5 separate regions of the Homo sapiens genome follow, and regions 2, 3, 4 and 5 are each linked to region 1. Evidence: fine-mapped expression QTL. A gene starts in region 1. Each other region holds a variant in brackets. All regions are shown on one strand. Distances are from middle to middle.

Region 1 (5,102 bases):
AATCTGACTGTTCATTAACAGATAAATGGATAAGCAAGATGTGGTATATCCATTCAATGTAATAATATTCAACCATGAAAAGGAACAAAATTCTGATACATGCTGCAACATGGATGAACCTTATAAACATTATGCTAAATGGAAGAAGCCAGTCATGAAAAACCATATATTGAATGATGCTGATAACATGAAATGTCCAGAATAGGCAAATTAAAAGGTTAGTGGTTGCCTAGGGCTGGGGTGGTTGGGAAGAAATGGAGGAATGACTGCTAATAGGTACAGGATTTTCCTGTTGGAGTGATAAAAATGTTCTAAAATTGATTGTGGTGGTGGTTGCACAAATCTGTGCCTATACTCATTGATTTTTTTTTTTTTTTTTGAGACAGGGTCTCACTCAGTCCCCCATGCTGGAGTGCAGTGGCCTGATCTTAACTCACTGCATCCTAGACCTCCCAGGCTCAAGCGATCCTCCCATCTCAGTCTCCTGAATAGCTGCGACTACAGACACATGCCACTATGCCTGGCCAATTTGTGTGTGTGTGCATATATGAAATATATTTGTATACATAAATTATAATATAAATATATATTTTTATAAATAAACTATATATATATAGAGAGAGAGAGACAGAGAGATGAGGTTTTGCCACGTTGCCCAGGCTGGTCTCAAACTCTTGGGCTCAAGAAATCCACTTGTCTTAGTCTCCCAAATTGCTGGGACTGCAGGCGTGCACCACCACGTGTAGCCCCGTTGAATTGTTTTTAGAGCTGATTTTCAGAGCTTTTGCACCGATGGGAAGTTATCTCTAAATAATGGTGGTTACTTGTTCATGACTCTGGACTTGAGCTAAAAAATTGATCACTGCAAGCATAGAAAGAATTGAAAGAGTTGTATTTGATAAATCTCATGACGGTGTCATAGCGTCTGTCATAAGTCCAAACTCATACCAAATAGTAACTGGGAATTGAATCTTGAGCTGTGAACTTTGAACTCGGACAAAACAATAAATTGAACTCAATATCTGATGCAAAAAAAAAGTGAATTTCTTCTCTGCTTGCAAGGGAGAGCGGTACTTGTAAGGTACAGCCTCTCTGAACAAAGCCAGAGCTGATCTTATAAAAGGTTTTGAAGGCCGGGCGCGGCTCACGCCTGTAATACCAGCACTTTGGGAGGCCAAGGCTGGCGATTCACTTGAGGCCAGGAGTTCAAGACCAGCCTGGCCAACATGGCGAAACTCTGTCTCTACTAAAAATACAAAAAATTAGCCAGGCTTGGTGGCACAGGCCTGTAATCCCAGCTACTTGGGAAGCTGAGGCACAAGAATCGCTTGAACCAGGAGGCAGAGGTTGCAGTGATCTGAGATCACGCCACTGCACTCCAGCCTGAGCAACAGAGTGCGACTCTGTCTCCAAAAAAAAAGGAGAAAAAGAAAAAAAAGGCCGGGCGCGATGGCTCAGGCCTGTAATCCCAGCACTTTGGGAGGCCAAGGCAGGCGGATCAACTGAGGTCAGGAGTTTGAGACCAGTCTGGCCAACATGGCAAAACCCGTCTCTACTAAAAATACAAAAATGAGCCAGGCGTGGTGGCGGGAGCCTGTAATCCCAGCTACTCGGTAGGCTGAGGTAGGAGAATCGCTTGAACCGGGAGGCAGAGGTTGCAGTGAGCCGAGATCGCGCCACTGCACTCCAGCCTGGGCGACAGAATGAGACTCAGTCTGGGAAAGAAAAAAAAATGGTTTTGGAAATATTCGCCTTCAGGGATTGGCTGTCTTTCCGAATCAGAAGTGGAGTGCGGCAGCTGAGTACCCACTGACTTTCGGAAGCCTGGTCGCTGGTGTCAGGCACTTGTTGATTGGCTATTGTCGGAGGCTTAGAGCGGTCACTGATTGGCTGACTTTCAGAAGCGTGGGGTTGTCATTGATTTACTAAGAAGCATAGTTACCGGAGTGAGGCTATCGCTGATTGGCTGATTTTCAGAGCTGCTGCACCGACGAGAAGTTATCTCTAAATAATGGTGGTTATTTGTTCACGACTCCGGACTTGAGCTAAAAAAGTATTTTCCTTTCTTGAATATGAAAGACGAGCACTTTAAATTCCTACTCCCTTCTGGTCTTCCCTCAGCCAAACCTGAAGGAGACACCATAGGGATTGTCCAAATCTTCATTAGTGTAGGAAGGATTTTCAGCCAGTGTTGTAATTTAAGTGATCTAGCACCAATTACTGTGGGAGAAAAATAGCTCTAATTATTGCAATTTAGTGTAAAAAGATGAATACAGGACATTTAAGGCATTCCGACGAGGTCAACGAAGGACGCAGGCCAATAATCATTAAATACGTCCTGTATATACAGGACTCCTGGCAACTATCAGTGCAGTATTTCCCAAGTTTCTTGTACATGTCCCTGCAGAAACCGGTAGAGCTAGGATCTTAACAGTAAAGGTTAGGGGTCTTCTGGGATCCTGTGCGCCTCTAACGCTCATGCCCTGCGCAGGGCTGGGTGCGCACTGCTGCGCTAACCCGAGGCCGGCTAGGAATCTATTGGATGTTTGAAGGGTGGGTGCGGAATTGATGACCAGGAAGCGGGAAGACACCGTTCCGGAGAACAGGGAAGCGAGCCGGGTACTGGGGAGGTGCGCTGGGTACTGGGGAGGTGCGCTGGATCCTGACGCCGGAGCGGAAGACTTCGCTGGAGGCCGGGGCTGGTCGGGCGGGGCGGGGCGGGCAGAGGCGGAGGGGCGGGGCCGGGCTGGGAGAGGCTCCGCCCCCGGGCGCGTCCGTGTGCGTGGCCGGGGGGCGCCGCGCAGAGCCCCGCTCTATGATGCCGGGCTTGAGGACGAGGCCGGGCGGCGCTGTGGCAACCCTCACCCTGCGGACACGCGCTCCCAACATCCGGTCCGGCGGCCTCGCAGCTTAAGAAGTGGGGTCCCTGTGGCCGTGCGCCGACCCCCAACTCCAGCCGCTCCCAACGCCCCCATCCGCTCTCGGTGCGCGCGCCCCCTCCACGCCCCCGCCCCCGCCCCCGCCGGGCCCGCGCGCCGCGCCCCCTCCCACCCGGCACGCCCTGCCGCCCCGCCCGGCCGCAGCTAGCGTGGAGCCGCCCTGCGGGCAACTGAGACCCTCGCAGCTGCACCGTCCTCCTCCGCCGCCAGTCGTCCGCCGCCATGGACGTGTACCCCCCGCGCCGGCAGGGGCTGCCCCGCGCTCGGTCCCCTGGCGGCTCCAGCCGCGGGTCACCCTCCGTCAGGTACGCGGGGCAGAGGCAGCCGAGGGGCGGCCGGGCGGGGGATGCGGGCTGTCGGGGTCCGGCGACGCCTCCCGCCGCAGGGCGTGGTCCGACATGGCTTCCTCGGGACGGTTCTTTGCTGAACGGCTCAGGGAGGAATTTTTCCCAGGAACGGCGCCCTCTGTAGAGGCCCCACAATGGCTCCCCTTTGGACAACCCCGCAACGGTTTCCCCACAATGGCTCCCCCACAGACAACCCTGCAACGGTTTCCCCACAATGGCTTCCCTAGGGACAGCGATTCCCTGTGAAGACACTGTTATGACGTCCTCACCCCCATAGAACGTTTCTCCCAGGAAGGATTCTTCTACACAGAACCCCACAGAGGCTTCCCTATGAATAACTCACTCGCCTTCCCCAGGGAATGTTTCCCTCAGAAACTGCTACTCTACAGACCTCACACCTCCACACACACAATAGCTCCCTCGTGTAGAACCCCCAAATGGATTACCTAGAAAGCCCCCTCCCGTGGGTCTCTAGAGCCTTTGCCCTTGACAACGGCTTCCTTAAAGAGTGTCCCCCGCCCCCTACGTACATAATGACAGCATCTCCCCTGTCGCGCGTTTCCCCAGCTCCCCCTGCCTCAGCCTGCATCGCGACGCCCCCTCACTCCACAATAGGGAGCTCGGGTTGGGAGGAAGTAGAGGTATTAGGGACGCAGGAGGAAAAACTGGATAAATAGGGGAAAGAGGCCTAGAACCTCCGAAAGCGGCGGACGCCAGGCCCCTTACCGTAGAGACACAGTCCCAAGCTACCTCAGTATGGGGAGGGGGTGATCGTGGGGAGCGTTCCCCGCCCCCTTTAGATATAGGAAGATCCGTTTCCGATTTCTGTGCCCTATGCGTTTGGTGCTGATCTTGTTGGTCTGGGCATTGTTTGTGATGGAGCTGGTGTGGGGCGCCGGCGCAGTGTGGAGGTTGGAATGATGGAGGGGTTGCAGCAGAGACCTTTGAGAAGGAGAGGGAGAGGGGGAATGCGAGCGATGAGCTTTGGTACTGCTAAACTGTCATTAAAACAGGAGAGGGTTTTGTTGTTGTTTGCTTTTTCTTATTCTAGCCACATAGCAAAGCAAATATATTGTTCCCTTGAAAGGAGGTTGCCAATCTACATGTTAAAACAGTTTTCTTATATTCTTGTTATGGTACTTAAGGCATATGTTTTAACTTTGCTTGCTGATCTGATTTTTGGGGTTGTTTGTTTGCTTTAACTAGACCAAATTATTGGAGAACAAGAAACTGATTCTTAGAAACCTGTTTCTTTTTTACTTCCCTGCATTCCTTTCCACAACCCAGAATCCAGTATATGTTTGTTGAACAAATAAAGGATAGAGAAGGTGGGGGGTAGATACCAATGAAACATTGCATTTAGGAGTCCTAAATTGCTTCGAATCTGTCAGGTGACATTTTTGAACTCCTGCTCTGCCCTTCAGTGTAATTCCTTGTGGGCTTTACAGTTCCAAGTTTAACTGCTTATAGTAACGCATCTCCAATCCTTTGCAACATTTCTGCCAGTTTCACTGTCTGAAGCAGAAAGTATTTGAACTTGTATAGACATTGCATAGGATACTTTAGAACAGCCATCCGTTAAATCTAGGCTCTGTGTGGACTTGAGGTTTATCCCAGATCATCTTGAGCTTAGGAATTTGGATTTGAGTCTGTTGAGATCTTTAGGGGGAAAAAAATCATCTCTACCTTAGAATCTGTCTCTTAAATGCTGCCTTTCTTGTTTTTAGTAGCATGGCCATGTGCTTTTTATTTATTCTTTTAAAGGTAGTGATTCTATGTTCAAAGAAGTATGCTGGCTCACTTTACTGATCATACC
Region 2 (5,102 bases), 150 kb after region 1:
GGCGACAGAGTGAAACTCCGTCTCAATAAAATAAATAAATAAATATTTTTATTTCTTTCTTCTTTTTATTTTTTGAGACAATGTCTCACTTTGTCACCTAATCCAGAGTATAGTGGTTTGATCTCGGCTCACTGCATCCTTGACCTCCCAGGCTCAAGCGATCATCCTACCTCAGCCTCCCAAGTAGCTGGGACTATAGGCGTGAACCACCATGCCTGGCTGATTTTTTTTCTTTTTTGTGGAGACAAGGTCTCCCTATGTTGCCCAGGCTGGTCTCGAATTCCCGGGCTCAAGTGATCCTCCTGCCTCGGCCTCCCAAAGTGCTGGAATTAAGGTATTAGCCACCACACCCAGCCTCTTGTTTATTTAGATCTGCTATTGACTCTTTTTTTGTTCAAATTTAACCTCGCTTTTTTCCGGATCCTTTCTCATCCTGCCTTTCAGGGAGCCCTTGCCCACTTCTTGGGTCTCCAGTCACTCCTAGCCCTCATCTCCTTAGCATGTAACACTTTTTCCCATTCTCATCTGTGTGACCTTCGTGCAACACTGCTGTACTGGTTTTTTTGTCTGTTTTGTTTTGTTTTTGAGACAGGGTCTTGCTCTGTTGCCCAGGCTGGAGTGCAGTAGTGCAATCCTAGGTCACTGCCCACCCCAGCCTCCCAAGTAACTGGGACTACAGGAACATACCATCACACCCAGCTAATTTTTTTGTTGTACTGTTGGCTGTGCCCTCCTCCCTTGGCCTCTGAGGCCTCTGCTGAGAGCCCCCCACTTCTACCAAGGGGGTTTCTTTGCTTTTCCTCAACCACCTCTTCCATAACAGCTATTCCAGCAACCACCAGGGACTATGTGGATGTCTCACGCTCAGGGTCTTAGAGACTTTCAAATGCCACAAGTGCAGAGTCAAACTCTTCCTCTTCTCCCACCTATAAACCTTTTTTTTCTCTTGTGTTTCCCTTCTGGGATAATAGTGTCCACCTGATCACCCAGATCAGCCAAGCCAGAAACTTATTTTGTTCCTCTCTGTCTCTCTCTCTTACTCCATCCTTTCTTTTCCTTTTTAAAAAACAAAACAAAATGGGATCTCCCTCTGTCACCCAGGCTGGAGTACAGTGGCGCAATCTCAGCTCACTGCAGCCTTGAATTCCTGGGCTCAAGTGCTCCTCCTGCCTCAGCCTCCTGAGTAGCTGGGACCACAAGCATGAGCCACTGTGCCCACCTACTCCATCCTTTCTAAGCTGCCACCAGTCACATCAGTTCTGTCTCTTGCATTTTCTCATGAATCTATCCCAACCATCTGCATTGTCACAGTCTTAGCATAGCTGTATCCTTTCAAGGCAGGCTCTCAGGGACTAATGTGTATTCTCCTTACAGACTCTGAGAGGACCATGGAGGTCTGCTACAACACACTGGCCAACTCCTTGAGCATCATGCCAGTTTTGGAAGGACCCACACCACCACCAGACTCCAAAAGCGTATCTCAAGACAGCAGCGGGCAGCAGGAGTGCTACCTTGTGTTCATCGGCTGCTCCCTGAAGGAAGACAGCATCAAGGACTGGCTGCGGCAGTCAGCTAAGCAGGTGGTTTCCAGAGCCCAGACAGACCTGACACAGATGTGACCAGACACCTCAGAGCTGCTGTTGGCCCTGAGAAGCCCCGCCACTGCCTCCCTGATGCCTCCCCACTGGGCTTCCTCTCCCTGGCCCAGCCAGCACTTGCAGGGACACTTTGAGAGAGGGAGGAAGCCACTGAGAGCAAACTCCAGGCAGGCCTGCTATGTTGTTTGCTTTGTGAGCCAGGTTCTCTGCAAGGTTTGGGTGCTAAGCCTTGTAGCACAGCCTTGGGGGTTTAGTTCATCCTAGAACTCTGGGACTAGAGTTAGCTGGGGCCTGGCTCTTCTGCAGATGCTCACTAGGGACCTGTCTTTATGCTGAGGGATGGGCTGCCTCACTTGGATAAGCTTCTAAACGGTTCTTGACTGTGGGGCCTCAGACTGCCCCTTTGTCTGCCTCTCATTGGTAGGGTTGAGGGATAAGAATCTACAAAGAGGCACGACCATTCCCATTTACGAAAACACTGGGCTGTCCTCTGCTGCTTGTTCCCTGCTGGCTCACAGGGCTCTGTGATGGGAAAGTGGTTTTCTCAAAGAGCAGACTAGACAGAATATTATATCCAGGCCATAGCGCACGTGCTTTCCCCACTGCTGAGATCTTAGTTGTGTAATAGAGCCCAGAGCCCTCCCCTGCCCATGCACTCCATGAGTTCTGCTGGGACCTGACCCTCCACTCCCCATCTCTGCAGAAGCCTCAGAGGAAAGCCCTGAAGACCAGGGGGATGCTGACGCAACAGGAGATCAGGAGCATCCACGTGAGTGCCTTGCCCTGGCTTCTCCCCTCGGTGGCCCAGGGCTGTCCTCGGCTTGCCTAGCTCTGTATTTTGGATTCTCTGAGTGAGGAGCTGTTTGTAGGACATGCTGGAGGTCTTGCTTCTCCCAGGCCACAGAGGGAAGCTGCGTACAGAATTCTGGCCTTTGCAGCCTCAGTGAGGAGGGCACAGGAGACCTCTGGTGTGACCTGGGCATCAGATTGAGTAGAGCCAGTACTTGTGGG[A/C]GAAGCTGATGACCAGAAGCCCTGCCTTGGCACCTTGTTCAAGCAACTGCAGAAGACCTATGTTACAGATGAACCAGCTAGAGCCCAGGCAAAAACTGTCTGGATCCAGAGGCTGCTCATAGGAAGGCTGTGGAACCTGAGGCCAGGATAAGAGGCTGATTGAGAGACCCCCTTGATGAGCCTCCCAGCCTCCAGGCTCTGACCCCCAGCCTCTGCTTCAGTCGCCATGCTCACTGGGGCCTTTTCCTGAGGGGTTTGGGGACAAAAAGCTAAAAAGGACACAGAGTCTAGGTCCCCAGGATGCCAGTAATGAGCAGGTGGGGCAGGAAAGTATTCTGGGACTCCAGGAGCCCCTGCTTTGGATTTGAGGAGGCCCCTTTCATAAACAGCTCCTATAGGCCCGGACAACCTGGGTGCTCCTGGGGAGGACAACATGGGCATAAGGTAGTCCTTATAATGCATGTTCCCCTGAAAGCCAACCGTGAACAAGGAGTTAAGTACAGGTAGTTTATTTTGGAAGTGATTCTAGGAGACACTAAATAGGAAACAGGAGGATGAAAGAGGAGAGGGGGAAACAGCCAATAAAGAGTGTGTTTGTGGCCGGGCATGGTGGCTCACGCCTGTAATCCCAGCACTTTGGGAGGCTGAGGTGGGTGGATCACTTGAGGTCAGGAGTTCAAGACCAGCCTGATCAATATGGTGAAACCCTGTCTGTACTAAAAATACAAAAATTAGCCAGGCGTGGTGGCGCATGCCTGTAATCCCAGCTACTCGGGAGGCTGAGGCAGGAGAATTGCATGAACCCAGGAGATGGAGGTTGCAGTGAGCCAAGATCACGCCACTGCACTCCAACCTGGGTGACAAAGCAAGACTCTATCTCAAAAAAATAAATAAATAAATAAAAGAGTGTGTTTGCACATCAGTACCACTGCACACCGTGGGAACTTCATCCCACTAGGACCTCCCAGAGCTCCTCACCTGAGAGGTGGGGAACCACCTCAGGCAGGGCTTGAGGTTTGCCGGGGGTGTTAGCTTCCTAGCTCCTCTGTATAGCAGAGTAGTCTATCTTGCTAGGGAAATAGACTTGTTTGTTTTAATGAGTGAGTGAAGTATAGAAAGTAGTCAGATAATTATTACAGGTCTCTTTTCTCCTACAGGTAAAACGCCACTTGGAACCCCTACCTGCAGGCTACTTTTATAATGGCACCCAATTTGTTAACTTCTTTGGTGACAAAACTGATTTTCACCCACGTATCCTTGGAACAGCGTGGTCCCTGTGTGGAACCCGGGCAGTGAGGCTGGGAGTGTGTGACCCTGTCTGCAAAGCGGTTGTCTGCCAGAGCCATGCATTTGAGCCCCAGGAGCACTCTGCATGTCCACTGATGGGTCAGGAATGCACAGGGGCAAACCTCAGGGGCGAACTTTTCATTTCAGTCTCTAAAGCTGTTAAAGTTAAATTGCTCCTTTATTGAGTGATTGCTAATGTGACTCTGGGTTATAGTTTTTTGGTTTTGTCTTGTTTTAATTTTTTTTTGGAGATGGAGTTTCACTCTTGCTGCCCAGGCTGGAGTGCAATGGCGCAATCTCAGCTCACTGCAACCTCCGTCTCCCAGGTTCAAGTGATTCTCCTGCCTCAGCCTCCCGAGTAGCTGGGATTACAGGCGCCTGCCGCCGTGCCCGGCTAATTTTGTATTTTTAGTAGAAACGGAGTTTCTCCATGTTGGTCAGGCTGGTCTCAAACGCCTGACCTCAGGTGATCCTCCCACCTCAGCCTCCTGAAGTGCTGGGATTACAGACATGAGCCACCGCGCCCAGCTTAGAGACTAGGTCTCGCCATGTTGCCCAGGCTGGTCTCAAACTCCTGGGCTCAAGTGATCCATCTACCTCAGCCTCCCAAATTGCTAGTATGGCAGGCATGAGCCACTGCGCCCAGCCTGTGAGTTATAGTTTGGATGCAGCTGCGGTGATATCCTGAAGTCTGTCGTCATCAGAGTCACGATTTACAAGTCGAAGACAGCCTAATTACAACAGTTAACCTGTGAAAAGATGGATAGGGCTGAAGCTGAAGGGCTCAGTTCTAGGACCTCATTAACATCCCTGTGACAACAGCCATTGCATTCTTTGTAGCTGTGGTGCTGCCAGTATATACAAAGAGTCCATCAGGTTCCCTCTCTATGGGCCAGACACTCACTTCCTCAGCAAACCCCCCTCACCTGCCTACAGGCCGCTCTGGGCTCAGGCAGCCTCCCTTGTCCTCCAGGCTCAGAGCTCTCTTCCTTAATGAGATACCAGTCATGGACCAGTTCATGAATGACTACGTGGAAGAAGCCAACCGGGAAATTGAGAAGTATAACCAGGAGCTGGAACAGCAGGAGTATCATGACCTCTTTGAGCTGAAGCCCTAGAGGAAGGCTGGGCCCGTACGTCCTGCAGAATGTCCACCTTGGAGATGGACGAACGGGTGTCTTAACCTCAGCTCTGCTGGAGGCCTCT
Region 3 (5,102 bases), 100 kb after region 1:
GTTTACTGAGACCTTGCCTTGGCTCATGCCCCATAATGAGCTCTTCCAGCACTGTCTTGTGAATTTGTCTTCCTCTTTTCCATTTTGTTTTGAGGCTTCAGAGTCTAGTGGGAGAGGAAATGCTGGAGATGACCTCGCTCATCCTTTCCCATCTTCCTATTGAGTAAATGGAATGTGCCAGCTTCTCCAATCTGTGCTTTTTTCTGGAAGCTTCAGGATTTTGAGCTTTGTCCAGGAGGCCTTTCAAGTGGCACTGGACTTGTTTCTAAAAAGGTTCACTTCAAAAGTACAAATGTAGAGGGATACCCAGGACAGGGAAGGGTGCAGGTACTAACCACTCAGCAGCAGGAGCAGTTTCTACCTCGTGACACCTATGGAGCCCTCTTATCTCTGGAAACAGTAAGTAGAGTCATCTTGTGGCAGGAGTTGGTGGGGTTGTGGTTTTAGGAGAGTGTTGAAGGTCTGGGATGAGCTCTGTGGGCTGATGGAAGGAGTGGGGAGACAGCAGTGAACAGGCTACGGGGCAGCACTGTGGCCTGTTGTGGTTGAGGGAGCAGAGAAGGCACATCTACAGATTCACCACAGCTGGGCTTTGGACAGGGGAGAATTGAAAGAAAAAAAACATGAGAGAACTGAAGGCACCAGCATGGTATAGTGTCTTTGGCATCAGACAAACCTGTGTTCTGTACCTGGCTCCACCACCAAGTAATGCTGTGATTTTGGGGGAAATCTCTCTAAGCTTGAGTTTTCTCATCTGTCCTATGAGAAAAAATAATACCACCTGTTACAATTGTGAAAACAGAAAACTATAATGTATGACATGTGTGGTGCTTAGTAAATACTGCGTGAAACCTGTTCCCATTCCTTTCTTTTAACAGAACAAAGATTAAAGGTTAAGTCCTGTCCCAGAGGATCTGCCCTTGATGTGGATGAGAAGAATATCAGAAATTTCTGAGCAATAGGGGAAAATGCGAATACCAATGACTGTGAAGGCTCAGTGACATCAGAGGATGGGGTGTGGGGAGGGAAACAGCTAAAAGGGGGATGGGGTGCTGGAGTCAGAGAGTAGTTGCTGGGCTGGAGATTTCAGAAGTCATGACATTCTGGGTGCAGCTTTACTGCTCTAAGAAGGAATGGGAGTGTTGGCATTGGAAGGGAAGACTGAGCACATTCAGAGTGATTTGAAATATGGCATGGTCAGGAGGGCAGTAGGTGTGAGCAGTAGAGGGAGGGGCTTGTGTCTCTAGGGGAATGAAAGTAACATGCTGTGGTGTTGGGGAGACTGGCCTGGGAGCAGCATGGAGGAACTTTAGGGTTGGTACAGGATGAGGCTGGGGCATGATTAGCCTCCTTTTCAGAGGGCCTCAGGAAAAGGCAGTGTGCACAGAAAGCCAGGCTACTTGTTGGAGGGTAGAGGTTTCCAGAGCTTGAACCTAGATAGTCGCTGGCTGTGGCTGCCACAGATGGTAAGGTTGGCATGTCCCTCTGACGGGGCATCTGGTTCTTCCATGAGAGGCAGGTGCCAGTTCTTCTTCTTGTACCTAAAAACTGCCTCCTTCTCCCTTCACTTCTCCTGTCCCCTGTGAACACATACTAACTAGGCCCCTCCCTTCCTTCTGAAACCTCACCTCCTCAGGAAGCCCTCAAAGCTTGCAGTCTCCAGATTCCTCACCCAGGATGTGAAGGCAGCCCTCAGACTCCTGGCCTTTGCTATTCTTGTCATTCCAGCCTCCAGAGCTTTGCACTGCTTTTCTGGAGCTACAACTTAAGGAATCAATTTCACTTATTTATCTCTTGGCCTTTGCCTTGGCAGTGAGGTCTTAATGACAATAAACTCAAACCTGTGCCTTGAGCTTTAAGAACTACTTCATCTCCCTCTATATGCGGAAACATGGAAAGAAAAGCTGTTACAGGAATAGAAGATTCAGCTTGGACCAGCCCCAGAGAGCAGCTTCACCTAGGAGTCTTATGGGTGCTTTGGGTGCTGCTTTTGTGTCTCCAAAGCAAGCCCAGGCCCAGCATTAATCTTTGTCATCTTAGTTGTCCATCTTTTCCATGGTCTGCTCCCTAGGGCCTATACTGAGCTGCTCCATATGACCTTGACCATCCAGGAAACAACAGCTCTCCTTAGACCTGAATCCTTGTTCCGAGGAACCCACATCCATGTCCACCTGTCACCCATCTTGCTTTTGTGAACTACAGAAGAGCAGCCCCCCAGTGTCTGTAGAACTTACTCATTACCTAACTCAAATGTTCTGTTGCTGGGCACAGGGACCTTAAGCTCCCTTCACCAGTCTTCAGCTGAGACCCAAGTGCTCCTTCTCGGGCCCTAAGTGAGGGATGTGGTCTCTTTAGGGCCGAGCCAGCTTCTGGCAAAGCAGAAGAAAGGAAAATCTGTAAACTCAGTAATGGAGCAGATATACCCAAAGTCTTTTTTAGTGTGTTTCCGTGGAAGATACCCATAAGGTAATGTGAATTTTGCTTCTCCCCATTAGCTGATAGTTTATTCACTTGTTTTTCTAATTCTTATGCAAAGACTGCATCTGATGCCTCATTTCCCTCTGAGGCTTTGGGAGGTTACTTTGGCTTCCTCAGAGCACAGGGCTCAGCATACAAATCGCATAACGTAATTGCTACTGATACTGGCCTCTAGTTACCACACTGCTGTACAAGAGGACATTGGAATCTGACCCCCAGCACCCAGCCCTCCAGCTCTGACCAACTCTCTTTTCCTTCCAGGGAATGTTCATTTCTTCTCTAGTGGCCTTCTGTTTTCTCACTGTCGTCAT[A/G]GAAGTATCATCATTTCCAAGGATCACATGAATTCCATTTCCTTCTATGATGGGGTAGGTGTTTTACTAGTCAGTGGCTTTTTTGGTCGGAAAGTTGCTCACACTTTTGAGGGGAAAACTAAATAACTCCTTTCTCCCCTCCACTACCACAGGGCAGTATGTCAGGAACCAGCACAGCCACTGAGGCAGGCAGGGAGGGAGGTCGTGGAGAGGCCTGGGCATTCTCAAGACGCTTACGAGCCTCATCAACCTCACTGCTCTGTAAAGGGCTTACCTAGAAAGGGCTTCTGGTCAGAAGGGCCAGCAGCTCCCCATGCCCAATTCATTCACCCTAAAGAGGACTATAAAGCAGGCTGAGAAGGCCTCCAGTGGCCCCTCTTGGGTGGCCTCCAGGTCCAGGGGCTCAAGGCTCACCCACTGAAAAATCAGAAAGGAGCTGCATCCTGTGGTATTGATGAGGCTCAGCATACACATTAGCATGGACAGGATTGTAAGTGAGCCAGAGAGGGAGAGAAATGGCTCACTTTCCCCGTGAGAGTTTAGCCCCTCCTCCCTCACACACCCAGACTTCCTCTCCAGCTCCATAAAAGTTCCACTGTCCTATAACAATCCTCTAAGTTCACCAGTCTGCACCAACACTTCCCATTCACCTTAAGGGGAAGATGGTAGCTATGGGTTTCCCCTAGCCTTTACCCTGTGGCCAAGGCACAGCTCGTCTCAGTGCAACACCAGAGCAGAGGGCAGGCCCACCACTCTGCCTGGTCTCAGCCTCAAAACCAGTCTGTCTGGGAGCTAGGACAGAGACTATGTGAGGTATTTTGGTCAGATGGCTCAGAAAACGAATTCTGTGAGCAAGTTTTTCTTCCATATAGAGCCTGCAGCCTTAAAGGCTGTTCAGAAATGTAGGCAGACCAATTGGACACATTGGATGGCCCTATTAGATTAAAGTGTTGCTGTTAGATTAAAGAGTCTTCCAATATCAGGGAAGAAAGAATGCATCATGAAAAGCACAGTACTGGGATGATAAGTAGCTAATTTCGACAAAAAATAGACTCTTACCTCTACTAAAAATCAAAATGAACTTCTGAGGGATTAAAATTAAATATATTTAAATTTCACAAATAGAATATAAAAATGAATATTTATTAAACCTCTAGGGGTTAGAAGACTTCTGAAGCTTAGAAACAATACAAGAAATTCTAAAGGAAAAGTTTGTCAAATTTGACCAGTTACTGATTTTTTTTTTTTTTTTGAGACAGAGTCTCGCTCTGTTGCCCAGGCTGGAGTGCAGTGGTGCGATCTCGACTCACTGCAAGCTCTGCCTCCCTGGTTCACGCCATTCTCCCGCGTCAGCCTCCTGAGTAGCTGAGACTACAGGCGCCTGCCACCACGCCCGGCTAATTTTGTTTTTGTATTTTTAGTAGAGACGGGGTTTCACTATGTTAGCCAGGACAGTCTCGATCTCCTGACCTCGTGATCCACTCACCTCGGCCTCCCAAAGTGCTGGGATTACAGGCATGAGCCACCACACCCAGCTGACCAGTTACTGATTTTTAAAAATTTTATGCTGATAATTTAACTTATTAAAGTATACTGTAAATACAACTAACTGTATCCATTTAAAGGTTTGGCAGATGTGTACATTCATGAAACCACCTTTACTATCAAACCAAAATGTTTTCTCATGCCCTTTTTCATCTTTCCCTCCACTCCTGGGTTCAGACAACCACTGATTAGCTTTTGTCCCTATATATTAGTTTGCATTTTCTAGAATGTTATATAAATGAACATCATCTATTCTGTAACCTTTGAGTCTGACATTTTCCACTCAACATAGTGATTTTTAGATTCATCCATGTTGTGTATGTAAATAGCTGTGTTCTCTTTATTGCTAAGTAGTATTCCATTGTATGGGTATATCATAAAATTTGTCAGACTAATTAGTAATGCAAAAACCCTTTAAAAAGTATTTTAGGGGATGGGGAGGGGTAGATCGATGAATACAAAGTTAGAAAGGATGAGTAAATTCTAGTGTTCTGTTGCACAGTAGGGTGCCTGCAGTCAACAATAAGGTGTTCAGATCTCACAATAGCTAGAAGAGAAGATTCTGAATGATAAATGTTTGAGTTGATGGATTTCTCATTCATTACCCTGATGTAATCATTACATAATGTATACATGTATTGAAACAATATATTATACCCCATAAATATGTGCATATTATGTATTAATTAAAAATAAAAAAATTTTTTTATGGCTAGGCACAGTGGCTCATGCCTGTAATCCCAGCACCTTGGGAGACTGGAGCAGGTG
Region 4 (5,102 bases), 750 kb before region 1:
GGGTGGCTTCCCGGTGGGGCTTCTCCCCTATCCCTGCCAGGAGCCGCAGCCTCACAATTCTGGGGTGAAGGAGAACAGCTCAGTCAGCACTTTCCGCTGACTCTTTCAAAACCACTTACAAGAACTGAGGCCTGTGAGCTCAGCCGGGCGCAGTTCCCCCTCAGCGGCCCCTCGTGACTCTGCACAAAGCCCAACTGTGCTTCAGCTCCAGCCCCGGGGAGGGGGTGGGGTCTCCGGCAAGCCCATCCTGCCTCCTGAGCCACAGGGTCCCACTCTGCCCAGCCTGGGACCTGTGCTTTCTGCCCACAAAGAGACACGACAGCCCCAGTGTCAGAGCTGTCTGAGCCGTGCTGGATCCAGGCAGCCTTCCTCCCTGAAGGTGGAGACGGGCCTTCCTCCACTGTAAACCCTTTTCCAGCACAAATACCTCTCTTATGGTGTCCACACAACGTAATTTATCATAGAGCCAAGGTGGCATGCATGATCACAAAACGAAAAAAGGAAAATATCCAAAGAAAAATCGAGTCACCAGATGAACCTCACAGCAAACCTCTATTTTGCCCCTCCTGTGCCAGGCCCTTTGCTGGGCACTTTCCATTCACTGCATCCTTTAATACTCATAAACTCTCTGCTGCCCATTTTACAGATGAGGAAACAGGCCCCAAGAGGTTCAGAGGCATGACAGACGCCACCTGGATGGAGTGAGGGGCAGGGCAGGGCAACACTGCTCAATCCCTGCTCCGACCTCAGGCCCCCCTACTCAGCCTCCCCAGGGGTGCGGCAGGCCCGAGGACTGCCCTGGCTCAACGATTCTCCCATCTTACTCCTCCCCACATACTGATATGCACACACTGTGCCAGGCACTTGGGGCTGGCAGGAGTCATCTCAAGGCCTGATGGTTCACTCCAGCTTCACTGCCAAAGCCTGGGGCTGCCACCGGGAAGCTACCTGCTTTCTGGCCTGGGCGCTTAGTGGGGTCCCTGCAGGTCACCCTGGTCTCCCTGCCCCATGCAGCTGGATTAGGCTTGCCAGGCACTAAACTAGCCAGGCCTCAGTCCTTCACCCTCGATCTCCTCCTCCATAAATAGGGCCAGGGACAAGTTCTAATTGCATTGGCCAGCACAAAAGAAAATTCAAAAAGCAAGTAACTCATAACTGCCTCTAGACGGTCCTCGATCACTGGCCCGAGACCTTCCCCTCCTGGTGACTTCAGGGTACATTAACTGTGCTCTCCTAAGAAGACCACAGGATTAACCAATAAAGCACTTTCCATAGAATTCAACCATGAAGCACAGTCCCCCACCCACGCGAGGGCTGGAACCAGGTCTCAAAAGCCACTGGGGTTCATTTCAGAATGCACACAGGGGCCATGCGCCCATGATTTCATCCATAAGACCCCTATGAAGTGGAGACGCTGAGTTTGGACATAAACATATTCTTTAGGCCCTTTTGTGGAGTTCAAAGAGAGAATAACTCACTAGCTTTTGAAGCATCAAGAAAGGTCTGTTCTTAAAATCCTATCATCATTGTTATCACTCTATTTTTAGCTGAATACACCTGAGATACAGAGTGCAGTGCCAAGCATTTTGTGTGGAATACCTCAATCCTCACATCAATACCCCCATAGTACAGAGGAGGCAACTGAGATTCAGAGAGGTTCCACAGCCTGCTATCAGCCTGCCTCTAAATTTTACTTAGTAATATATTAAGCCTCAGGCCTTGCTCTTTTTAAAATCTAATGAAGAAGCAGCTGGGCGCAGTGGCTCACACCTGTAATCTCAGCACTTTGGGAGGTCGAAGTGGGCGGATCACTTGAAGTCAGGAGTTTGAGACCAGCCTGGCCAACATAGTGAAACCCCGTCTCCACTAAAAATACCAAAATTAGCCGGGCGTGGTGGCAGGCACCTGTAATCCTAGCTACTTGGGAGGCTAAGGCAGGAGAATCGCTTGAACCCAGGGGGCAGAGGTTGCAGTGAGCCAAGATCGCGCCATTGCACTCCAAGAGTGAAACTCTGTCTCAAAAACAAAAAAAAATCTAATGAAGAAGTCAAGTTCATTATCTTTCCTTGAGTTACTTTTTAAACTCCAAACCTTTTCAGATTAACTCTCAAGGTTTTGCATTGTGTATGATTTTTTTTTTTTAATTTTCCAAAATAAGAGAGAGTAAAAGGTCCCTGTGTGTTTAACATTTAAAGGCATCATTTAAAAATATTTCCTAAGAATATATGCCCCTTGGTGGTGCTGGGTGTCTCCTGCTTGAGTCATCCTAAAATCTAGCCAACTCAGCCTGCAAGGAGTATCACCACCACCCGCCAGGATCAGAGGTGCGCTGGCTGAGCTGGGCTGTCCCGGAGATCTGGTTATGGGTGGGGAGCAGTTGAAGGTATGAGGACAGGCTCTGAGAGAGCCATGGGGTTGACGAAAGGGCATCGAGACAGATGTCCCAGAAACTGAGTGAGACCCATCATGCCTCACTCAGGCCCCCGGGGCTGCATGGGGAAGACAGGACCCATGTGTCTGCCAGGGCCTAGCACAGAGTTGGCAGGGGTGGCTAGATTCTTTGTTCTGTTTTCTAATAAATTGCAACTCACTTCCAAGTTCTTGTTCTTCTGACTTTAAGTCACACCTTCCTTAATGCCGTCCCTCAAGAAGCAGGTGGAGAAGAAGGGAATCTGGACTAAGGGGTGCTGCAATGCCCCCAGCTAGGCCACCATGCTCCACCTGAATCCAGATGCTTTTCCTCATCCTCCAACCTCCCAGCCCCAGATTTAGAGAGCACTGGGCTCCTACATGCTTGAGGAAGAAAGACAAAGGGGCAAAGGAGGACAAGAGAGGGGAGCTAGGGCTGGGTAGGAAAATCCACTGAGCATGCCCCACCAGGGCCTTCGGGTCAGGTCGGAGGGCCAATGTTGCCCCACGCACCACCGTAGCTCCTCCTGGGTATTTAAAATACCACACCCCGACCGGCGCTGTGGCTCACACCTGT[C/A]ATCCCAGCACTTTGGGAGGCCAAGGCGGGCGGATCACGAGGTCAGGAGATCGAGACCATCCTGGCTAACAAGGTGAAACACCATCTCTACTAAAAATACAAAAAATTAGCCGGGCGTGGTGGCGGGCGCCTGTAGTCCCAGCTACTCGGGAGGCTGAGGCAGGAGAATGGCGTGAACCCGGGAGGCGGAGGTTGCAGTGAGCCGAGATCGCGCCGCTGCACTCCAGCCTGGGCGACAGAGCGAGACTCCAACTCAAAAAAAATAAAAAATAAAAAATACCACAGCCCATCTCCCCCACCTGAGCTGCTGAACAAAGAGCCTCACACCACAGAGGAAAGGAGGTGTGGCAGAGGCGAGGCAGGGTAGCCTCACTGACTGCCCTGAGAGTCTGAGAATGAGGGTCACGTCCGCAACTTGGCCCCTCCCCCAGCTTCATGTCCATGAAGGGGCACAGCACCGCCCCCTCCCACAGCCCACCATCACTCACACCCTGCCTCATGTCTCACTAATGCACTGCTCTGATCACATCACTGCCCTGCTCAAAACCTTCTGTGGGCTGCCACAGCCCAGTGAACGAAGGTAGTCCCTGATGCCTCCTCCCTGCCCGCAGGCCACTTGTCCCCTACACACACCCACCAGGATCCTCTGACTCTCAGACTCAAACCTGTGACTTCTCATTCTGTCCAGATCTCCCCACCTAACTGGCCATTCCTCCAGGAAGCCAGTCCTGCTAGCTACCCACACCCTCTTTCTTCTCCTCTGCAGGCTACTCTGGTCTAACCAGGACCCCAACCTAAGCCTTGTGCCGCTTTCTGCTGGCTCTTGCTTTCTTCCCTCATGTCCACGATGACAGGGCCCTCCCCAGGGTCCCTCCTCCAGCCATGTCAAATCCAGTAGTAAGAGCAGCCAACCGGTATTAGAGTGTCACAACAACCCAGCCACCCTAGGAGGGAGGTAATATTACCCTCATGGTACAAATGAGGGAACGGAGGCACAGAGAGGCTTAGCTTATTGTCCAGAGTTCACAACCCTGCTGTGTTAACCTCTGAGATGAAAGGCTGGGGAGAACTTGCAAAGCGAGGAAATGCCCGGGAGGTATAAGGAAAAGGCCCTCTCAGAATCCAGAAGATGGCCGGGCACAGCGGCTCACATCTGTAATCCTAGCACTTTGGGAGGCCAAGGTGAGCAGATCACCTGAGGCCAGGAGTTCCAGACCAGCCTGGGCAACACGGTGAAACCCCACCTCTACTAAAAACACAAAAATTAGCAGGGCGTGGTGGTGAGCGCCTGTAATCCCAGCTACTCGGGAGGCTGAGGCAAGAGAATTGCTTGAACCCAGGAGGTGGAGGTTGCAATGAGCTGAGATTGCGCCACTGCACTCCAGCCTGCGTGACAGAGTGAGGCTCCATCTCAAAAAAAAGAAAAAGAATCCAGAAGACCCAGGCCCAGCTACCTGGGGATCCCAGGCACCAGACAGGTCCTTCCAGATCCTTCCTCATTCACCCAGTGAGGCAGAGCCATTGCCACAAGAACCCAGGGCTGGCTCTCGGCCCAGAAATACCAGGGAGAAAAGGAAGGATGGCAGGGAGCTTCCTGGTAGAGGTGGGATGGGCACATCTGAGGGCCCTGGTCAGTTGAGGTCCCACCAGGCACTGGCAGGGGGGTAGCAGTTGCTACACCCAAAGGAAGGTGGGGAGGCAGACATGGGGGGCAAAGATTTACAGATGAAGAAACTGAGGCCTCAGAGGGGAGCCTGGCATCTCTCTCTCTGCAGTGCCCTCTTCTTCTACTGATTGTCCAAATGTGCCCATCCCACCAAGTCTACCTCTACCAGGAAGTCCACCTGTGCTACCATGTTCGTGGCCTTCCAGTGAGCAGCATCTTTCCACATCAGCTTTTCCCAGCAGGTGTTTTCCTGGTGGGTGGGACATTATTGGCAGTCATTTAAAAAAAAGATTTCCACGGTCAGATCAGGCTGGGAAACACTAAACAGTTTCTTTTCTACAGGACTTGTCAGGACCTTTAATTCTCTTAAATGTATTCTGAATCTCCCGTAGGGTAGTGGAGTGAATTTGCCAGTTTCTACCCTTATTTGTCCCCTGAACGCTTGAGATT
Region 5 (5,102 bases), 140 kb after region 1:
CCGAGGCGGGTGGATCACCTGAGGTCAGGAGTTCGAGACCAGCCTGACCAACATGGAGAAACTCCATCTCTGCTAAAAAATATAAAATTAGCCCGGCATGATGGTGCATGCCTGTAATCCCAGCTACTCGGGAGGCCGGGAGTCTGAGGCAGGGGAATCACTTGAACCCAGGAGGCGGAGGTTGTGGTGAGCTGAGATTGCACCATTGCACTCCAGCCAGGGCAACAAGAGCGAAACTCCATCTCAAGAAATAATAATAATAAAAAAATAATTAAACTACTCTCTATTAGTAAATGGGTTGATGATGAGCATTGAATCTTTTTTAAGTATAGAATTATAACACCTGTGAGAATTCTATTACAAAATAGAATATAAATGTTGAAAGCCTATCTATGAAATTATATTTTACAAAAAATTGGCAGAGGAGAGATACTCTTTACATCTTTCAGAATGGGAGATTGATAAAGTTTAAAGCTATTAAATCAAGTTATAAAGGGTTAAGTATACTCTTTAAAGATATAAAAGTGACCACTAGAGGAACTGAAAATCCTAATGAAGCTGGGTGCCGTGGCTCACGCCCGTAATCCCAGCACTTTAGAGGAGGCCAAGGCATGAGGATCACTTGAGCCCAGGAGTTTGAGACCAGTCTGGGCAACAAAATGAGACCCAGTGTCTAAAAAAAATAAAAAAATTAGCCAAGCATGGTGGCACGCACACCTGTGGTCCCAGCTACACAGGAGGCTGAGGCAGGAGGATTGCTTGAGCCCAGGAGGTCAATGCTTCAGTGAGCCACTGAATATATAAATATATATAATATGTAGACTTCCTTTGGTTCCTGATTCAAAAATTATTAACTGAGAAAACATTTATAAGACAGAGAAATTTGAACACAGACTGGATTTTTTTATATTAAGGAGTTCATTGTTAATATGTTTAGAGTCCTTATATTATGGAAATTCACGTTGAAGTATTTTTGTTTGAAATAATTGGGTATCTGGGATTGACTTCAAAATCATACAGTAGGGGAGCCGGGGATGAGCTGGGTGGAGTGTAGATGAAATACGATTAGCTGAGTGTTGGTAGTTCCTGAAACCAGGTGATGGGAGTTCATTCTACTATTTTTCTAGTTGTGTATGTTTGAAATTTTCTACGATATTAAGAAGTACAGCTGGGTGCGGTGGCTCACACCTGTAATCCCAGCACTTTGGGAGGCCGAGGCAGGCAGATCACGAGGTCGGGAGTTCGAGACCAGCCTGACCAACATGGAGAAACCCCATCTCTACTAAAAATACAAAATAAGCTGGGCATGGTGGCGCGCACCAGTAATCCCAGCTACTTAGGAGGCTGAGGCAGGAGAATTACTTGAACATGGGAGGTGGAGACTGTAGTGAGCTGAGATTGCAACATTGCACTCCAACCTGGACAACAAGAGTGAAACTCCGTCTCAAAAAAAAAAAAAGAAGAAGTAAATAAAAATTATTGAATAACAAAAATGCAAAATGAATAATCTTATATATGCGCTATGATTATAACTGTTAAAATAGGAATGAATATGGAAGGGGTATTATAATTATCTTGGGGTGGTGAAGTGTGGTAAGTTTCCTGATCTCCAAATTCTCTGTGGTCCTGTGAATTTTACTTCTGTATTTTCACCAAAAGGTTGGGAGTGATCATGGCCCACCCTGCAACCTCTTCTTACATGGGCCACCCTTTCTTACCACGTGACTAAAATCTGTTAGCATTTATCTTGGAATCATGTGGCTCCCTGTGCACAGTATCTTGGCAGTGCACTCTTTGAGGATATAATGAATAACCCCTGTTATATGGTGAGTTTTTGATAATTGTGTTGTTCTGAACTGGTGAAGGTAAATGGCACCAGTTCCTGATGATGCTAAATACAGGATGTGTGAAAAGGCCCTTTGACTAAGAATTCCAAGTATCAGCTAGATACCAGAATTAAAATAATAGAGGAGGCCGGGTGCAATGGCTCATGTCTGTAATCCCAGCACTTTGGGAGGCTGAGGTGGGCTGATCACCTGAGGTCAGGAGTTCAAGACCAGCCTAGCCAACATGGTGAAACCCCGTCTCTACTAAAAATACAAAAATTAGCCAGGCATGGTTGCGGGTTCCTGTAATTCCTGCTACTCAAGAGGCTGAGGCAGGAGAATTGCTTGAACCCTGGAGGCTGAGGTTGCAGTAAGCTGAGATCGCACCACTGCACTCCAGCCTGGGCAACAGAGTGAGACACCGTCTTAAAAAAAAAAAAAAAAAAGATAGAGGAAGTTAGGGGTTAGGTAGTAAGGCAGCTACAGACTTGAAGCTATTCATTCCAAGAGGTGGCAGTGCCGGGAAGTGGGAAGAGAATGATAGCTGTTTATGTTGGTATTGGGGTGTAAGGGTTGTCTCCATCAGGAGACTACTGGAAGGCATGATTAGGGGATGGAGCAAGGGCTCACGTTTGTGTGAGCCTTCACCCCTAACCAGGACTGTGAAGGCTAAACTGTCCTTGGTTTTATTCCCAGGCCTGGTGAGTAACGTGGTATTCACCAGTCACACCACGGAGCAGCGGCACCCTCTCCTTGTTCAGCTGCAGAGCCTCATCAGGGCTGCCAATCCTGCTGCAGCCTTCATTCTTGCAGAAAATGGGATTGTCACCAGGTAATCTATAGATTCACTCTGCAAGACCAGTTGCTTTCTCAGATACAGCACTCTGTCTGTGGCCCACAGAGTCTTTCTACTGTATCTAAGACCTAAACATTTGGAGAAGTCAGTTTTTGAGCCAGGTGCGGTGGCACGCACCTATAGTCCCAGCTACTCGGGAGGCTGAGAAGGGAGGATCACTTGAATCCAGGAATTGGAGGCTGCAGTGAGCAATGATTGTGTCAGTGCATTCCACAGCCTGAGAGACAGAGCAAGACCCCATCTCTTTAAAAAAAAAAAAAAAAAAA[G/AG]CAGGCTGGGCACAATGGCTCGTGCCTGTAATCTCAGCATTTTGGGTGGCTGAGGTGGGAGGATCTTGAGTCAGGAGTTTGAGACCAGCCTGGACAATATAGTGATACTCCATCTCGAAAAAGAAAAAATATATTGGAAAAAGAAAAAAAACAGTTTTTGAAGTGTTTTTTTTTTTTTTGAGACGGAGTCTCCCTCTGTCGTCCAGGCTGGAGTGCAGTGGCGCGATCTCGGCTCACTGCAAGCTCCGCCTCCCAGGTTCACGCCATTCTCCTGCCTCAGCCTCCTGAGTAGCTGGGACTACAGGCGCCCGCCACCACGCCCGGCTAATTTTGTTTTTGTATTTTTAGTAGAGACGGGGTTTCACCATGTTAGCCAGGATGGTCTCAATCTCCTGACCTTGTGTTCCGCCTGCCTCGGCCTCCCAAAGTGCTGGGATTACAGGCGTGAGGCACCACGCCTGGCCGAAGTGCTTTAGATGCTCTGTAAAAATCACCAAGAAGACCCCATCGTGTACCATTTTGAGGCATTTTGTTTTGATCCATTCACATTCTCATCCATTGAAGGATGGTAGCCAAGATTCTCTTAACATCCTTGTATTAAAGTGTGAAAGAAATGGCATAGAGAACGTAGAGAAGGGTCGGATGTGATGGCTCAACCTGTAATCCCAGCACTTAGGGAGCCCAAAACTCCTTGCAGGAGTTCAAGACCAGCCTGGGTAAAATAGTGACACTCTGTCTCTACCAAAACAGTTTTTTAAAAAAACAGCCAGCATGGTTGTGCATGTCTGTAGTCTCAGCTACTCAGGAGGCTGGGCAGGAGGATTGCCTGAGCCCAGGAGTTTAGGGTTATACTGAGCCATGATCACACCATTGCACTCCAGCCTGAGCGAAGTAGTGAGACTTTGTCTATTAAAAAAAAAAAAAAAAAGTGGCCGGGTGCAGTGGCTCACGCCTGTAATCCCAACACTTTGGGAGGCCAAGGCAGGCGGATCACAAGGTCAGGAGATTGAGACCATCCTTGTTAACACGGTGGAACCCCGCCTCTATATTTAAAAAAATACAGAAATTAGCCAGGTGTGGTGGCAGGCACCTGTAGCCCCAGCTACTTGGGAGGCTGAGGGAGGAGAACGGCGTGAACCTGGGAGGCAGAGCTTGCAGTGAGCCAAGACCGCACCACTGCACTCCAGCCAGCCTGGGCAACAGAGCCTCTGTCTCAAAAAAAAAAAAAAAAAAAAAAAAGTAACATAGAGATATTATCTCTTTACTTCATGGACTTGGGTTCAAATTACAAACTAAAAATAGAGAATTAGTGATTTTGTTTGTGTACACACATATACGAGGAGAAAACACCTGGTTATATAGCTGTTTTGTTTGCTCAATTCAGATAAAAGGTTATATACCTTTTTAATGTAGTTTTGACTTTTGAACTATGTAGATATTTTATGTATTCAAAAATTAAATAAAGGAGGGAAAAAACTAAATTAAATACAAACCAAAAAAAGCGAATCTAGGCTGGGTGCAGTGGCTCACGCCTGTAATCCCAGCACTTTGGGAGGCCAAGGCAGGCAGATCACGAAGTCAGGAGTTCGAGACCAGCCCTACCAACATGGTGAAACCCTGTCTCTACTAAAAATACAAAACTTAGCTGGGCATGGTGGCGCATGCCTATAATCCCAGCTACTCAGGAGACTGAGGCAAGAGAATCGCTTAAACCCAGGAGGCAGAGGTTGCAGTGAGCCAAGATCGTACCATTGCACTCCAGGTGGGCGACAAAGAGAAACTCCATCTCAAAAAAAAAAAGGGGCCGGGCACAGTGATTCATGCCTGTAATCCCAACACTTTGGGAGGGCGAGGCGGGCGTATCACCTGAGGTCAGGAGTTCAAGACCAGCCCAGCCTGGCCAACATGGCGAAACCCCGCCTCTACTAAAAATACAAAAAATTGGCCAGGCGTGGTGCCAGGCACCTGTAATCCCAGCTACTCAGGAGGCTGAGGCAGGAGAATTGATTGAACCTGGGAGGCGGAGGTTGCAGTGAGCCAAGATCATGCCATTGCACTCCAGCCTGGGCAACAAGAATGAAACTCCATCTCAAAATTAAAAAAAAAAAAAAAAAGTAAACCTATCTGTATATCAAAGTAATAACAGCCACACCA

Direction of the effects. Positions count from the first base shown, and alleles are read on the strand shown. Sizes are in standard deviations (SD) of each study's normalised expression. Not every link is listed here.
As copies of A replace C in region 2, the expression in fibroblasts of the gene that starts at base 3,050 in region 1 goes down (moderate effect, 0.46 SD a copy in GTEx).

What was found. PIP is the estimated chance that this variant, and not a neighbour inherited with it, causes the effect.
Region 2: its variant is fine-mapped to the expression of DNAAF9 in fibroblasts (GTEx, PIP above 0.99).
Region 3: its variant is fine-mapped to the expression of DNAAF9 in fibroblasts (GTEx, PIP 0.91).
Region 4: its variant is fine-mapped to the expression of DNAAF9 in prefrontal cortex (GTEx, PIP 0.97).
Region 5: its variant is fine-mapped to the expression of DNAAF9 in whole blood (INTERVAL, PIP 0.95).

Annotation. Positions count from the first base shown.
Region 1 is chr20:3,405,617-3,410,718 of GRCh38, reverse strand. It overlaps DNAAF9 (dynein axonemal assembly factor 9), which reads left to right and starts at 3,050. Exons shown (of 37, transcript NM_001009984.3): 1 at 3,050-3,244. The coding sequence starts at 3,162. RefSeq lists enhancers at 1,649-2,150, 2,527-2,726 and silencers at 2,717-2,966, 3,007-3,246, 3,307-3,386.
Region 2 is chr20:3,252,484-3,257,585 of GRCh38, reverse strand. DNAAF9 (dynein axonemal assembly factor 9) reads left to right here. Exons shown (of 37, transcript NM_001009984.3): 34 at 1,375-1,580; 35 at 2,302-2,367; 36 at 3,767-3,860; 37 at 4,902-5,102. The coding sequence ends at 5,014. Among named protein-coding and RNA genes, the nearest start is that of SLC4A11, 16 kb to the right of the region's middle. The variant A/C (reference allele first, on the strand shown) is at 2,610.
Region 3 is chr20:3,302,181-3,307,282 of GRCh38, reverse strand. It overlaps DNAAF9 (dynein axonemal assembly factor 9), which reads left to right. Exons shown (of 37, transcript NM_001009984.3): 21 at 2,740-2,843. Among named protein-coding and RNA genes, the nearest start is that of SLC4A11, 66 kb to the right of the region's middle. The variant A/G (reference allele first, on the strand shown) is at 2,790.
Region 4 is chr20:4,156,058-4,161,159 of GRCh38, reverse strand. All of the region lies in intron 1 of SMOX (spermine oxidase), which reads right to left. It overlaps LOC124904861 (a long non-coding RNA gene), which reads left to right. Exons shown (of 2, transcript XR_007067504.1): 2 at 1-2,597. Among named protein-coding and RNA genes, the nearest start is that of SMOX, 9.8 kb to the right of the region's middle. RefSeq lists enhancers at 1-396, 3,023-3,523, 5,052-5,102. The variant C/A (reference allele first, on the strand shown) is at 2,987.
Region 5 is chr20:3,267,983-3,273,084 of GRCh38, reverse strand. It overlaps DNAAF9 (dynein axonemal assembly factor 9), which reads left to right. Exons shown (of 37, transcript NM_001009984.3): 30 at 2,523-2,658. Among named protein-coding and RNA genes, the nearest start is that of SLC4A11, 31 kb to the right of the region's middle. The variant G/AG (reference allele first, on the strand shown) is at 2,949.